2 separate regions of the Homo sapiens genome follow, and region 2 is linked to region 1. The links come from fine-mapping of genetic effects on gene expression. Tissue or cell type: tibial nerve. Region 1 holds a variant in brackets; the other region holds the start of a gene. All regions are shown on one strand. Distances are between the middles of the regions.

Region 1 (8,175 bases):
CTTCCTTGACCCAGTCCAGAGTTTTTCCTGAGTGGGGCTGTGGTCTGGAGTGGGGGAAGGAATTTTGGGAACTACCCTGCTCCTCCTCTTTCTCTTCCTCTCTGTGGTCGCCCTTCTCTGACAGCCCCGTCACCCTTCTCAGGCCCCACCGCAAAGCTTAGACTTGGGTTCTTCTTATGTGGCTGAATGAGGGCAGCCTGGGAGGGGCAGAGGGACCCATTGGTTTGACATCTTTGAAGTCCGCCTTGTACCGGAATGAGCTAGACCAGCTCTCACATCTAGTCTCAGAAATGGCCACATGCCTTTGGCTTAGTCATTTACCTTCTCTAAGCCTCAACTGCCTCATCTGTAAAATGGGAATTTTATGTCTCATAAACCCAGCCTTGGCTGGGCTTGGTGGCTCACGCCTGTAATCCCAGCACTTTGGGAGGCCAAGATGAGCGGATCACTTGAGGCCAGGAGTTCAACACCAGCCTGGCCAACATGGTGAAACCCCATCTCTACTAAAAATACAAAAATTAGACGGGCGTGTTGGCGTCTGCCTGTAATTCCAGCTACTTGGGAGGCTGAGGCACAAGAATTGCTTGAACCCGGGAGGTGGAGGTTGCAGTGAGCCAAGATCAGGCCATTGCACTCCAGCCTGGGTGACTGAATGAGACTGTGTCTCAACAACAAAAAATAGCCCAGCCTTATGAGACACTGGTGAGCATCAAAGGAGATAAAGTGTGAACAAATATTTGTCAACTCTCAAGGGACATTAGGACGCAAGCTCTTATTCTGTCTGACTAGGTTTGACCTTCCCCAAATCCCCAAATGCTCCCCAGCCTGGAGGGCTTCCTTGGTGGGGGCTGAGCTTCCAGAGCCAGACCCAAGCTCCGTGTTGGTGTCGACCTTGGTCTCGTTTCCCATCCCTCTTCCACAAGCCCACCTTCTAGGAGGTTCATGGTGTCCTATTTGCTGTGAACAGGGACTGACCTATAATTGCAGGCTATTAACTGTATTTTCCTCTCTCATTTGCATACATGAATTTTGCCCTACTTCCAGAAAGCAAATTACAGGCTGGAAATCAGAATATTTCAGAAAGGGGTGATGGGGTTGGAGCGGAGTGATCGCTACATAATGAAGTGTCCGATGCTAAGGTCAAGGCTGGGCCAGGAAAGCGTCCACTGTGGGCCCATGTTCATCCAGGTAATGGGTTCGGGGGGTCTGGGAGGTGGCAGAGGGACCTCCCAGGCTGGGCTTCTCTCTAAAGGCCAAGGCAGGTGGCCCTGGCTCCTGCACCACAGGACGTGGCCCAGGGAGACAGGTGGTAGCTGCAGATGCAGTATGGCATTGTTCTCCTAGACATCCCTGGGTACTGGCTAGGTCTCTGCTGGGTTGGGTTCTGAGCAAGGACGAGTGAGATGGGAGGGGAGGGGGGATTAAAGCTCTCTGACCTCGGGTTCTGGATTTCCCATCTTGGCTGGCTCAGGGGGCCAGTCGGGTTATCACCAAAGCTGCAAAATTGCATCTTTGTGTCCTTTCTCTCTGGATTGAAAAAATTTGCTAAATTTGCTAGTTTGGATGCTTTTTTTTTTTGACCTGGGTAATGTCAAAGAGTTATAGACCCCAGGTACGATCAGGTGCAATGTCTACATTTTAAACATCAGGGAAGAAAGGTTGAGCCCCACATCCAACTGTGAGCTCTTTCATGGCCGTGTGTGCTCCTTGAATTCAAGTTTCTCTCTAGCTCTCATCAGCGGGGCACCTCTGTAAGCTAAACATGATTTGGATGGGAGTGGGGAGGGCTAGAAACCCAAACATCTATAGGGACCAAACCCGCCACAGAAATGAGCGTGCTGGACTGAGGAGGAAGCAATAAAGAATTTTACTCATTCCTTCATTTAGTCAGCTGGGTTTTTTTGTTTGTTTGTTTGTTTGTTTTTTTGAGATGGAGTCTTGCTCTGTTGCCCAGGCTGGAGTGCAGTGGTGCAATCTCGGCTCTCTGCAACATCTGCCTCCTGGGTTCAAGCGATTCTCCTGCCTCAGCCTCCCAAGTAGCTAGGATTAGAGGTGTGTGCCACCATGCCCTGCTAATTTTTGTATTTTTAGTAGAGATGGAGTTTCACCATGTTGGCCAGGCTGGTCTTGAACTCCTGACCTCAAATGATCCACCTGCCCCAGCCTCCCAAAGTGCTGGGATTACAGGTGGGAGCCACTGCACCCGGCCTGTTTTTTTAAAGAGACAGGATCTTGCTCCGTCACGCAGGCTCACTGCAGCCTTGACCTCCTGAGCTTAAGGGATCCTCCCACTTCAGCCTCCCAAGTAGCTGGGACTATAGGCGTATGACACCATGCCCAGCTAATGTTCAAATTTTTTGTAGAGACGGCGTCTCACTGTGTTGCCCAGGCTGGTCTCAAACTCCTGGCTTCAGGCGATCCTCTCACCTTGGCCTCTCAAAGCCCTGGGATTATAGGCGTGGGCCACTACGCCTGGCCCAGCAAACACTTATATATGGCTCATTCTGTGCTGGGTGCCGTTCTACTCACTTTGCAAATATTAACTCATCTCACCTTCATAGCGATTCTATGTAGTTGGTTCTATATTGATCCCCATTCTGCAGGTGAGAGAACTAAGCAGAGAGAGATTAGGAGACTTGCCAGCTGGTAGCAACAGAGCTGGGCTTTGAGCCAGACCACATGGTGGGGGCTGGGGATGCTGGAACAGGCACAACCTACAGTCCTGGCCCCCTACAGAGGGAGCTGAGGCTGGACTGCACTCCAGCCCCATTTTGCCAGATTTTCCAACATTTCAAGATAAACTGGAAATCTATAATTGTATGTGAAATCCTCCAGTTAAAAAAAGTTCACTTTATTTATTTATTTTTTTGAGATGCAGTCTCGTTCTGTCACCCAGGCTGGAGTGCAGTGGCGTGATCTCAGCTCACTGCAACTTTCGCCTCCTGGGTTCAAGTGATTCTCCTGCCTCAGCCTCACGAGTAGCTGGGATTACAGGCATGCATTACCATACTCGGCTAATTTTTTATATTTTTGGTAGAGACGGGGTTTCCTCATGTTGGCCAGGCTGGTCTAGAACTCCTGACCTCAAGTGATCCGCCTGCCTCGGCCTCCCAAAGTGCTGGGATTACAGGTGTGAGCCACCACGCCCGGTCAAGTCACTTTAATTTTGTAGGCACTGTGCGGCTCAAACAAAGTGCTGGATTTGGCCTGAGGGATTTGGGTGGGCATCTTCTGTCTGTGAGGAGGAGGAGGAAGGAAGGAGGAAGAGAAAGGAGAGGAAGGCAGAACTGAGAGGAGGAGGTTGGAGTGAAAAGGCTGCTGATGACAAACACCATTTATCCAACAAGCATTTGTTCATTTATTTATTTTGAGACAGAGTCTCGCTCTGTTGCCTAGGCTGGCGTACAGCGGTGTGATCTCGGCTCACTGTAACCTCTGCCTCCTGGGTTCAAGCGATTCTCATGGGATCACAGGCATGCGCCACCACCAGTTTAATTAAAGCCAGTTGATTTTTAAAATATTTTTTGCGTTTTTAGTAGAGATGGGGTTTCACCATGTTGGCCAGGCTAGTCTCGAACTCCTGACCTCAACCGATCCACCTGCCTTGGCCTCCCAAAATGCTAGGATTACAGGCGTGAGCTGCCGCGCCTGGCCCCAACAAGCATTTATTGAGCATCTATTGTATGCCCAGCCCTGTGCTGCTGCTGAGGGAACAGATACGACCAAGGCATGACTTGCCCCAGGAAGAGCTTATCGCTTTCTTCTCATCTGATCTGAGCTTCAAAAATGAGTGTGCTGTGGTGGGAAGGGCCCCTGCACCAGCCCAGCTCAGAAGACCTGGGCTCATCTCCGCTCTGAGCCCGGCTCACTGCCATGTTGGACTCTCTAAAGTTCCTTTGCTTCTTAACCTGAAGGAGCAGGGGCTGAGCGGGAGGGGCTTCCTCTGCCCACCTACCTTTATTAAGGGCTCAGAGTGGCCACGCCAAAGCCAGTGTTGGTGCACCTAAGAATTGCGGGGCCGGCCCCGCCCCGGGATCCCCAAGCAGGGCTGCCAGGGCACCTGTTTGACATCCCGGGGCTGGTTACTGCTCCCTTTGCACTGAGCCTGTGATTCTGGAAGCCGCCGCTAGGGGGACGGTGTTGCTGTCCTCACACGACAGTGGGCCTGGGCCGAATTGCTGAGAAAAGCAGAAACGACTCCTCACTCGGGCGCCGCTTGGTCTCCATCGTCCTGCCCTTGAAGCCCAGATGCCCCAATGCCCCAGTCCCTGGCATCCTTCACTGACCGAGGTGTGGGAGCAGGTGGGT[G/A]GGGGGGGCTCTGCATCCGTAAACAGAGTCGCACAGAGGTAGGCAGCACACAAGGAGCAGAGGCAGGTCTCTGCTGCCCCCGCCTCCCCTCCAGCCCCTTCCCCCATCTGAGAACCTCATCGAATTGACTGATTCATTCCTGGTGACTTCTGCAGCCGCCACTTCCGTGGCTGCACCTTGAACTTGCATTAAGTTTTAATTAAAGCCGTTTCACCGGCCTTGCCCTTGGCTAAATGCAGCTGTGGGCACAGGGCACATAGATATTTAATACTCTGCCTCTCCCCGCTGATGGCGCAGGGTGCCCAAGGGTGTACCCGAGCCGTGCCCTGCTCGCAGCGATCTGCGAGCTCGCTTAAGTGTGCCCACAGGCCCCGAGCGGGAGGCCGCGCAATAACTATTCATTGCCCTGGGTTAAGTGTGCCCAGGGGCACCCGTAAACTCAATGCAGTGATTAGCGATTGCTCCCAGTGAAGGCTGCCCGAGCTCCTGCGGAATGTCCACGGGCCCTAAATATAGCCTCCTCCTGGCGACTTAAAGGGCACGGTGCGTTTTGGCTGCGTACTTGTCACGTCTTCCCTTCCTTTCTTTTTTTTTCTTGGAGACAGAGTCTCACTCTGGCCAGAGTCGCCCAGGCTGGAGTGAGTGGGACAATCTCAGTTCACTGCAACTTCCGCCTCCCAGGTTGAAGCGAACCTCGTGCCTCAGCCTCCTGAGTAGCTGGGACTACAGGCGCCTGCCACCACTCCTGGCTAATTTTTTTATTTTTTATTTTTTGTATTTTCGGTAAAGATGGGGTTTCACCATGTTGCCCAGGCTGGTCTGGAACTCCTGAGCTCAGGTGATCCACCCGCCTCAGCCTCCCAAAGTGCTGAGATTCCAGGCATGAGCCACTGCACCTGGCCTTCCCTTCCTTCTTTTAGCAGAATTGCTTCCCTCCTTCTTACAGCCTGGCCTCTGGGGGCCTCTCTGTCTTCTTCCTGGTTCAGCAGGGGAGATGGGCTGGGGCACCATGGTGCAGCTTTGGTGGTGTTGTTGAGGAATTGCCGCATCCTCCTCATTCTGCCAGACCTTGTGGACATCTCCTCCATTTCTTCCACTTTGCTCCCCAAGGGAAGGCAGCACCCCCTAAAAGCAAGGCCATCACAGGGCTGACCCGAGGGGCTCCCTGTGGGCAGCCCGAGCCTGCTGCCAACATGGGCTCTCTGGGGCCAAGGAACAGCCGAGCTGGGCAACTGGGGAGGCTGCATGGTGGTGGCGGGCCTTTTCCTGGCCCCACCCACTCCTTTCTGCTTCTGGAAGCCCTTCTTTGCCCCTGGGGAGAAGAGGTGGGTAGCCTTGAGTTGGGGAGCTGTCAAGATGAGTCAGTCCACTCTGGCTCCAGTCTCCTCATTCTGTATTGGGTAGGAGAGGGGGTCTGATGGTCTCCGAGGGACCCTCTGCTGGTCTGTGACTCTGTCCGGTGCCACAACCTCCCTGGCCAAGTCTGACGCAAAGGCAAAGGGGCATTTGGAGAAAGTAGAGAGACTTGAGAGAGCACCTGGGTGGGGTGGCACTGGCTGCAGAGGGGTTTTGGGGAAGGTGCCTTGCCCACGCCATCACCTTGGGCCCTGGTCTGTGAAACGGGAGAATGGTGCCACCCTACGGGATGGCTGTGAGACTCAGGCGCGGTACGAGAAACCACTGTCTCGGTTTGCCTGGGCCTGTCTCAGTTTTAGCACTGAAAATCCCACATCAGGGGAACCTCCCCACTGCTGGGGAACCGGGATGGTTGGTGCCCCTAAGAATGGTGCCATTGGGGGGCACATGTGTACTCTCTGGGACCGTAGAAGCCCTCACTCTCTACTTCTGCTAGTTGGATCCAAAGTGGAAAGAAAAAGGGCGAGAAAGAAATTGGGACTTAGGGAGAAAAACAGACAAGAGGCCTAGGAAACAGCCCCAATGGAAGTGGGCCGTGAGCAGGGTTGGTCCCATGCACACCCGCTCTTGGCCTCACCAGCTGCGCCCAGGACCCCAGCTGCCCCCTTGGCCGGGCCTAGGATGGCAGCTGAGGCAGTGACATTTCCCTGCGTCTGTTGACACTCGAGTCCCAGAACATAAATGATTTTCTTGTCTTAATGAGCAAACAACCCTGCGGCACAGCTCTCTCACCGGCCTCCTGCTGGGGTAATTGCCGGTGCTGATGGGCACAGGCAGGGATGTTTGCTCACCTTTGCTCACCGCTTGCAGGAGACATTGCTTCCTCTTTGTCTCTGCAGGTCTCCCGGCCCCTGCCCCTGTGGAGGGACAATAGACAGGTAAGCGGGCCCCATTGAAGTAGCAGGAGCAACTCTCTGGAAGTTTCTGCTAGGACTGGTGGGTGCTCAGGATGCTCTGAGGCAGCTTTTGAGTTTGCTTGTCCTCCGGAGAGTGTCGTGGATGGTACAGACTCTTCAAGGACCAGGTCTTGCCGGCTGAAGTTTGAAGCTCCCACTGATGCCCTCCAGGCAGAGGCCTGAGGCCATCTGAGAACAATCTTGAAGAGGGGACCCCAGCTTTGGGTGGGAGGCTGGGTTGGAAGGCTGTAAGGTCCTTCCTGTGCTAAGATTCTCTCTGCCAAGTCTCCAGTGACAGGGAGCTTGTTCCTTTGTAAGGAGCTTGTTCCATGTTGCACAGGTGTTTCCCGAATTTTCCTTCTGCTGGTCCTTTGAGTGTTTCCCGCAGCCTCCCCGAAGGATCCAGTCCCTCTTCTCCATTTCACATCCCTTTGAATATTTGGGGTCAGTGAGCTTGACCTCCCCAAGTCTTCCTGATGTCTCCCTGCCAGTCCTCCTGAGATGGGAGCTGGCGACCCTTCCCTGTCCCTCTGCCCGCATCTGGCCCTCACCTTTATTCAAGACCCTGATTCCCATGTCCCACTAAAGGGTGGCAAACAGAGCCAAGGACAGGACTCCAGTTGTGCCCAGCCAGGGCGGCATAGGGGCCGACTGGTTGGCATTGCTGTTAGGGGTAACTGTGTGTTCGTTCTTTCAGTTGCGTTGTACACCTACTGTGTGCCAGGCACCCCTGCAAGGGACCTCCTACCCTAAAGTATAAGCGTGCTAGCGTCTGGTTGACTCTCCTCCCAGAGTGGCCTGCCGTCCTGCCTCCTGGCCTAGATTATCCTCCCCGTGACCCTGTTGCCTTCCTAGGTGACCCTTCAAGTGTCCCCTCTCCGTAACCCCTAGTGACCGTGCCTCCCTGGCCACATGGTTTGTGATCGTGTCCTCTTTCTCCAGACTCCATGGCTGCTGTCCCTTCGAGGGGAGCTGGTGGCTTCTCTTGAAGACGCCAGCCTGATGGGACTGTATGTGGACATGAATGCCACCACTGTCACCGTCCAAAGCCCGAGACAAGGCCTTCTTCAGAGGTGGGAGGTCAGTGGTGGGCAGCAGGCTCTGCCAGGAGGTGAGGGGCCTCTGGGGCATAGCACCTAGAAGAGCAGGTTGCCACCCCTCCAGTGACAAGTCAAATGTCCACCTGCGAGACTGGACAGATTTAGGCAGGCGCCTTCGAAAATTGGGCCCCATTAGCGTAAAGCGCTCCGCTCTGCAGATGAGGGGCTCCTGCAATCATGCATTCAGTGCGTCCTGATCATGGCGGCAGGAGCGTAATTACCGTCTCTTTAAATAGCCCAAAGTTGCTGTGTAAGAGAAGACGGCTCACATGACATTTGCTCTGAGCTCGCTTCCTGCTAAAAATATCTCAGCTAAATAATATTTCCTAGTTGCATCGGCGCCATAATCCCTGACCTGGGCTTTGTAACACTTGGGGCTTTAGTTCAGAGACTAATTCGAAGGTAGGAGAGGGGGCCCCTGTGGAGGGAGTCTGCATCTGGAAGGAGCAGTTTTG
Region 2 (8,175 bases), 21 kb before region 1:
CCCGGGAGGCAGAGGTTGCAGTGAGCTGAGATTGCATCACTGCACTCCAGCCTGGGTGACAGAGCGAGACTGTCTCAAAAAAAAAAAAAAAAGAAAGCTATTTTGAAAATGTGATTTTCCCAAATGGAGAAATGAAATTTGAGCTCCACTGGAAAGACCCCAATGAAATTGCTTTCTCTAAAAATATCTAAGACGGGAGCCCCTACTGCGTGTGTGTGTGTGCGCGCGCATTTCTAGGAGTGTGTGGGGCATATGCTAAGAGTTTTGTATAGGGTTGTGTGTGTAGGTGGGTTTCAGGGTGTGTGTGTAGAGATGTCTGTGGCTATGTTTATAGGTGTGTGCGTGTGTGTGTAGGAGGAATGGGGTTTAGGGTATCAGATTAGGAAAGAAAACCTGTTTTTCAATTCCTGTTTCTTCTTCTCTTTTTAAGATTTAAACAACAGCTCCAGGGTGGTCCTTGCAGGTTCTCTGAGTGAGCTGTGTACCAGTGATGTTTGCCCTGGCTTTGGCGTTTCTGTTTGAGGCCTTATGAAGTGGGCCAGGGCATCTGGGCCTCCTCCAGGGCCCGTGAGGGTTTCACCAGCTGTGTGTTCTGATCCTGCCTGCTTCTGTTTGGTGTGATGAGGGCCTTTCACCTGAGCGTGAACAGATCCTGGTGACAACCAGCTTCCATGCACCACTCTGGGTCTCCACTTCCAACTCCATGTCTTCTTAGGCGGCTCATGATAAATCCCGAGCAATTTGGGATTAAAGGAAAAGTTGGTCAACAAAAAGATGAGTTAAAAAGAGAAACAGGGCTGGGTGTGGTGGCTCACGCTTGTAATCCCAGCACTTTGGGAGGCTGAGGCGGGTGGATCTCGAGGTCAGGAATTTAAGTTCAGCCTGGCCAAGATGGTGAAACCCCGCCTCTACTAAAAATACAAAAAATTAGCCAGGCGTGGTGGCAGGTGCCTGTAATCCCAGCTACTCGGGAGGATGAGGCAGAGAATTGCTTGAACCTGGGAGGTGGAGGTTGCAGTGAGCAGAGATCGTGCCACTGCACTCCAGCCTGGGTGACAGAGTGAAACTCCGTCTCAAAAAAAGAAAAGAAAAAGAGAAACAGGCTGGGTGCAGTGGCTCACACCTGTAATCTCAGCACTCTGGAAGCCTGAGGCAGGAGAATCACTTGAGCCTAGAAGTTTGAGACCAGCCTGGACAACGTAGTGGTATCTTTCGTACGGACCCCATCTCAGAGACCTCTGGTCTCTGTCTCTTGTTTGTTTGTTTTTTGAGATAGGGTCTTGCTCTGTCGCCCGGGCTGGAGTGCAGTGGTGTGATCTCAGCTCACTGCAACCTCTGCCTCCTGGGTTCAAGTGATTCTCGTGCCTCAACCTCCCGAGTAGCTAGAATGAGTGATATGCGCCATGATGCCTGGCTAATTTTTGTATTTTTAGTAGAGATGGGGTTTCACCATGTTGGCCAGGCTGGCCTCAAACTCCTGACCTCAAGTGATCTGCCCACCTCAGCCTCCCAATGTGCTGGGATTACAGGCGTGAGCCACCGTGGCTGTTCCCTCTGGTCTCTTTTGTCTCTAGAAAAAATTTAAAAATCATCCAAGCATGGTGGTGTGTGCCTGTATTCTCAGTTACTCAGGAGGCTGAAACAGGAGGATTGCTTGAACCCAGGAGGTCGAGGCTGCAGTGAACCGTGATTGCACCATTGCACTCATGCCTGGGTGACAGAGTAGGACCCTGTCTCAAAGAAAAAAAAAAAAGCCAAATCCCAGATATGTGGGAATGTGACCTTATTTAGAAATAGGGTCTTTGCTGATGCAATCAAGTTAAGTGAGGTCATACTGGATTAGGCTGGCCCTTAATCCAGTAATTAGAGTCTTTATAAGAAGAGGAAAATTGGGGCCGGGCGTGGTGGCTCAGGCCTGTAATCCCAGCACTTAGTGCCCCTGTACTCCAGCCCGGTGACAGAGTGAGACTCTCTCTCAAAAAAAAAAAAAAGAAAAAGAAAAATGTGGACAGAGACACCCAGGAAGAATACCATATGCTGGTGACGGAGGCAGAGATGGGAGTGATGCAGCTACAAGCCCAGGACACCCAGGACTGCCACCAGCCACTAGAAGCTAGGAAGAGGCAGGGAACGACCCTCCCCTGGGATCTTTAGAGAGATCGTGGCCCTGCTGACACCTGGATTTTGGACTTCTGGCCTCTAAACCTGGGAGATAATTAGTTTCTGGTTTTTTTTTTTTTTTTTGAGATGGAGTTTCGCTCATCACCCAGGCTAGAATGCAGTGGCGCCATCTTGGATCACTTGCAACCTCCGCCTCCTGGGTTCAAGCGATTCTCCTGCCTCAGCCTCCTGAGTAGCTGGGATTACAGGCGTGTGCCATCATGCCCGGCTAATTTTTGTAATTTTAGTAGAGATGGGGTTTCGCCATATTGGCCAGGCTGGTCTCGAACTCCTGACCTCAGGTGATCTGCCAACCTCAGCCTCCTAAAATGTTGGGATTACAGGCTCTCTTTCTCTCTCTCCCTCTCTGTCTCTCTTCCTGAGATACAATCTTGCTCTGTTGCCCAGGCTGGAGTGAGCCACTGTGCCTGGCTTCCTCGACTTTCAATAATGGCAAGTATTTGGGGCGGGGGGAGGAAGGGATAAACACAGATAAAATGGAATAGTTAAAATCAAGACTTTTTTTTTTTTTCACTTGCAAAGGGTATTAGGAACCATCTAGTCCTAAATCCTCATTTTGCAGGGATATTTGTTTGCAAGGGCTGCCACGACAGAGTACCACAGACTTGGGATTTACACACCAATTGATTTCTTCACAGTTCTAGAGGCTAGGAGTCTGAGATCAAGGTGCAGGCAGGGCTGGTTTCTCCGGAGCTGCCTCTCTGGCTCACAGCTGGCCATCTTCTCCCTGTGTCCTCACACCGTCATTCCTCCGTATGTGTCCGTGCCCTAATCTCCTCTTCCTTTTTTTTTTTTTTTTTGAGACGGAGTCTTATTGTATCGCCCAGGCTGGAGTGCAATGGCACGATCTCAGCTGTCTGCAATCTCTGCCTTCCAGGTTCAAGCGATTCTCCTGCCTCAGCCTCCAGAGTAGCTGGGATTACAGGTGCCCACCACCAAGCCCGGCTATTTTTTGTATTTTTGGTAGAGACAGGGTTTCACCATGTTGGCCAGGCTGGTCTCAAACTCCTGACCTGATGATCCACCCACCTCAGCCTCCCAAAGTGCTAGGATTACAGGCGTGAGTCACTGCGCCTGGTCTTTTTTTTTTTTTTTTTTTTTTTTTTTTTTTTTTTTTTTTTTTTTAGACGGAGTTTTGCTCTTGTCACCCAGGCTGCAGTACAATGGTACGATCTTGGCTCACTGCAACCTCCATCTCCCGGGTTCAAGCAATTCTCCTGCCTTAACTTCCCAAGTAGCTGGGATTACAGGCGTGCACCCCCACACCTGGCTAGTTTTGTATTTTTAGTAGAGATAAGGTTTCACCATGTTGGCCAGGCTGGTCTCGAAGTCCTGACATCAGGTGATCAGCCTGCCTCGCCCTCCCAAATCACTGGGATTATGGGCATGAGTGACTGTGCCCGGCCCCTTTTTTTTTTTTTTTTAGACAGGGTCTTGTTCTGTTGCCCAGGCTGGAGTGCAGTAGCACAATCAGGGCTCACTGCAGCCTCAACCTCCTGGGCTCAAGCAATCCTCTCACCTCAGCCTCCTGAGTAGCTAGGACCACAGGTGTGTGCCACCATGCCCAGCTAGTTTTTAAATTTTTTGTAGAGACAGGGTCTTGCCATGTTCCCCTGGCTTGTTTCGAACTCCTGACCTCAAACAATCTGCCCATCTCTGCATCCCAAAATGCTGGGGTTACAGGCATGAGCCACCATGCCTGGCCCCTCAGCTCCTTTTGAACTCTGCCAGGAGGGGCCTGGAGCAGGGTTCTGGGAAGCCCCATCAAGACAGCGTGACTGTTCCTCCGGTGAAGCTCAGTTTCTTAGCTTCTTTCCTTCCTTGGGCACAGAGACAGGCTTCTCCCGGGAGCGGAGAATGAGGGCCTGCACTCCAGCCTCAGTGGATCAATTCATCTTCAGCCTTCTGATCCGCAATCTTATTTTGAGCTCCCACGGCTGAAGCAATTCATCTCACCCATGCAGAGGGATGGGGAGAAGCTGAGAGTGTTGACACCCACCTGTGTTTTCTGGCACCTGAGTGACCCGAGACCTGCACTGGAGGGGAAGGGGAGGAGCCAACCTTTCGTTTAGTTGCTTGGAACTGCTTCAGATTAAATTCTCCCAGGGCAGGAGAGAGCTGCTGGGCCTGAGGATGTGGGGGTCCCCAGCACTTGCCTGGTAAGTGTCCCTTATTCAGGAATTGGGAGAAGCCAGTGGCATGCTTAGTGTGCCCACACTCCTTGAAGAAGCCAAATATCTTCCATCAGAATCAGAAGCCTTGCATCTAAGAGGGAAGGGGGCCAAATGGGTGAGGGGCCCAGATGCATGGATGCCTTGGGAAGGGCTGACTTTCTCAGGTGAGGTCCGGCCACAGTCTCTCCCACCTTTCTCATGCTCCTGTCATCCCTTGTTCTGGAATTCCAGTCCTCCCATCTTGGGAAGGATTTCCAGAAGATTGGGAGAAAACAGAACACGTCTTCCTTGTCCTAGAGGGTCCTTAAAACAAAACAAATTAGGGGTCAAGTTGACCAAGAGATGCTTGATTTCAAGGAGTTTTCAAATGATAGGAGTTGTGGTCGCTAGCTATTCGATTGTAAGGATTAGGAGAAAATTTCATTTTCCTTCCTTCCCTCCCTTCCTTCCTTCCCTCCCTGCCTTCCTTCCTTTCTCCTTCCTTCCTTCCCTTTCCTTTCTTTTCTCTTTCTCTCTCTCTCTCCCTCTCTGTCTCTCCTTCTTCCTGAGATAGAGTCTTGCTCTGTTGCCCAGGCTGGAGTGCAGTGGCAAGATCATAGTTCACTGTCATCTCTTAACTCCTGGGCTCAAGTGATCATCCCACTTTAGCCTCCTGAGTAGCTGGGACCATAGGCATGTGCCACCACACTTTGGTAATTTTTTAATTTTTTTGTAGAGACAGGGTCTTACTGTGTTGCCCAGGCTGGTCTTAAACTCCTGGGTTCAAGCCATCCTCCTGTCTCGGCCTCCCAAAGTATTGGGATTACGGGCATGACTCACTGCACTTGGCCAAAATCTCATTTTCCTTGGCAACAGAATTGCTACCTCTTTTCCCCATCTGAGATGCATTTTTAAGAGATACTTTAAAAAGCTCCTGAGAGTGGGAAGTGAAGCCTCCCAGGCCAGCTGGAATGTCACAATAGCTGGCTTGTGGCCTTTGGGCCGTGGACTGCAGGGCTTTTGTTGGGCGTTTTGTGAGGTTGAAGTCTGTAGACAATGAAGGCAGTGGAGAAGCTGAGTGGGGCTTTGTGGGGCTGGGCGAGCAAGGGGGAGGTCCGGGCCCTGTCCTGGGGACCCATTGCCTTCTCCTGGATGCCCCATGAGGGGGCTCAGCTTTGGGGGATGGAGCATCATGTCTCCCCCCAGACTGGGATGGGGCAGTTCTGGGTCTGAGAAGTGAGGGGGAAAAACCCAAACCCACATCTTTCTCCCGATTGATGCTCAAGGAGGAGAACAGGAGCAGGCATCAGACGGAGGGGAGAGCTGTCTACCCCCCACCTGCCACCGGGCCGATTCCAGACAGCATTCCCTGTGTAACAGCAGAGTCGGGGTCCCTGGCAAGGCCGGGACTCAGCACCAGAGTCAGCCACTTTCCTTTTCCCCAAGATTATTCTTCTGGTCCTGTCTCAGATTTACTCGCTCTGGGAGAACCTTCCTTCAAGACCAATTGCCCCAGCCAGGTTTTTGTTTTGCAAATTAATCAACTAATAATAGCGCCTCCCCGCTGCTGGGAGAGGAATTCCGCATTGGGCTCAGTGTCCAGGCAGCAGAGCCCAGGGCGGGTACCCGGCCGTCCATGGGAGAGGCTCGCCACAGGCGCTTCTGAATTCAGCGAATGAAGCGGGGCAGCGGGGCAGCCAGGCAGCCGCAAGCTCCTCCCAGCTCAAAGGCTGCAGGCTCAGCTTAGATTCCAGGCTGGGGAACCAGTCCTGTCATTCTTTGCCAACCCACTCTGGGGAGACTGTGGGCCCTGGCATTTGGCCTCCCTGGGCTGGGCCTGAGGCCCTGGCCCTCTGCCCACCCAGGAATCGAATGGCTCAACGAGGGCAGCCCTAGAAGGAAATGCAGCACCCATTCCTGCCTTTTCACATTGCTTTTTAAACTGTTAACTTTCTTTCTTTCTTTTTTTTGAGACGGAGTTTTGCTCTTGTTGCCCAGGCTGGAGCGCAATGGTGAGATCTCGGCTCACCACAACCTCCACCTCCCAGGTTCAAGCGATTTTCCTGCCTCAGCCTCCTGAGTAGCTGGGATTACAGGCATGCGCCACCGCACCTGGCTAATTTCGTATTTTTAGTAGAGATAGGGTTTCACCATGTTGGCTAGGCTGCTCTCAAACCCCTGACCTCAAGTGATCCGCCCGCCTCCGCTTCCCAAAGTGCTGGGATTACAGGCGTGAGCCACTGCACCCGTCCAATAGTAGTTTCTTTCTTTTCATTGCAGTTCAGTATTCCATTGTAGGAGTAGACCACAATGGGTCCATTCTACCACTGCTGGGCGCTGGGGTGGTTTCCAGGTTACAGGAAATAATAGCACTGCTGTCAACAGTCTTGCACGTGTCCTCTGATGCCCTTGTGCTTGCCTTGCAGTTGGAGAGGAAGCGCTGGGTCGAAGGGTGGAGGAATGTTCAGTCTTAGTAGATTCTACCAGTTCCCAAGAGTGGTTGAACCAACCTCACTCCCGCCAGGAGGCAGGAGCTTTCTCAATGCTCCACATTCTGCCAATCTCTCCCTGTCATTCTTTCTTTCCAGCTTCTGGCTTCAGGATTATTTCCTGAACTCCTCTAAGGAAAGCTTCTTTGTGGGAAGTTTAGGTTCTTGCCTGCAGTCATTTTAAATAGTTGGAGTCTCAGCTGCCCGAAGAGTCTTTTAAAATGTGAGATCCTTGCCCTGGGTGCGGTGGCCCACACCTGTAATCCCAGCATTTTGAGAGGCTGAGGTGGGCGAATAACTTGAAGCCAGGAGCTCAAGACCAGCCATGGCCAACATGGTGAAACCCCCGACTCTACTAAAAATACAAAAATTAGCCAGGCGTGGTGGCACACGCCTGTAATCCTAGCTACTCAGGAGGCTGAGGCACGAGAATCACTTAAATCTGAGAAGCAGAGATTGCAGTGAGCCGAGACTGTGCCACTGCACTCCAGCCTGGGTGACAGAGTGAGATACTCAGTCTCAAAAAAGAAAAAAAAAGTGAGATCCTCTTCCTTCCCTGCTTAGAGTTCTCCAGGGCTTCCCACAATTTTTTATGGTAAAACCCCAGCCTGCACCCCTGGCCATGGCTCCTGCCTGCCCCTCTCCTTTTTGCCCACCAGCGGCCCCTCTGTCACTGGCTCTAGTTCCACTGACCTTCTTTTGAGTCCTTAAACACAAACACACCAAACTCATTTCCGACTGTTTGCTGTGCACTGACTATTTCCTCTGCTGAGGAATGCCCTTCCCCAGGTCTTTGCATGGGACTCTTTCTTTTTTTTTGAGACAGGGTCTCGCTTTGTTACCCAGGCTGGAGTGCAGTGGGACAATCATTGCTCATTGCAACCTAGACCTCCCAGGCTCAAGCAATCCTCCCACCTCAGCCTCCTGAGTAGCTGGGACCACAAGCGCATGCCACCACACCAGGTTAATTTTAAAATCTTTTTGTAGACATCGAGTCTTGCTATTTTGCCCAGGCTGGTCTCAAACTCCTGGGCTCAAGTGATCCTCCTGCCTCAGTCTCCCAAAGTGTTGGGATTATAGGCATAAGCCACCATGCCCAGCGGGACTCCGTGACATACATACCATCTTGGTTCAACTGTCACCTCTCAGTGATGTTTTACCTGACATAAAGAAATTTGGGGGCTCGGTGCAGTGGCTCACGCCTGTAATCCCAGCACTTTGGGAGACTGAGGTGAGTGGGTCGCTTGAGCTTAGGAGTTTGAGACCAGCCTGGGCAACATGGTGAAACCCCATCTCTACAAAAAAAATACTAATAAATTAGCCGGGCGTGGTGGCTAACTTTTTTTTTTTTT

Direction of the effects. Alleles are on the strand shown, and positions count from the first base shown. SD is a standard deviation of normalised expression in the study named.
For the expression in tibial nerve of the gene that starts at base 4,276 in region 2, allele G in region 1 goes with a lower level than allele A (moderate effect, 0.71 SD a copy in GTEx).

What was found. PIP is the estimated chance that this variant, and not a neighbour inherited with it, causes the effect.
Region 2: CIROZ starts here. The variant in region 1 is fine-mapped to the expression of CIROZ in tibial nerve (GTEx, PIP above 0.99). The same link has a PIP of 0.9 or more in pituitary.

The regions. Positions count from the first base shown.
Region 1 is chr1:10,957,141-10,965,315 of GRCh38, reverse strand. It overlaps CIROZ (ciliated left-right organizer protein containing ZP-N domains), which reads left to right. Exons shown (of 13, transcript NM_001170754.2): 5 at 1,045-1,188; 6 at 6,564-6,602; 7 at 7,563-7,700. Among named protein-coding and RNA genes, the nearest start is that of CIROZ, 21 kb to the left of the region's middle. RefSeq lists enhancers at 31-100, 4,547-5,316, 6,086-6,855 and a silencer at 3,950-4,244. The variant G/A (reference allele first, on the strand shown) is at 4,309.
Region 2 is chr1:10,978,177-10,986,351 of GRCh38, reverse strand. CIROZ (ciliated left-right organizer protein containing ZP-N domains) reads left to right here and starts at 4,276. Exons shown (of 13, transcript NM_001170754.2): 1 at 4,276-4,340. The coding sequence starts at 4,315.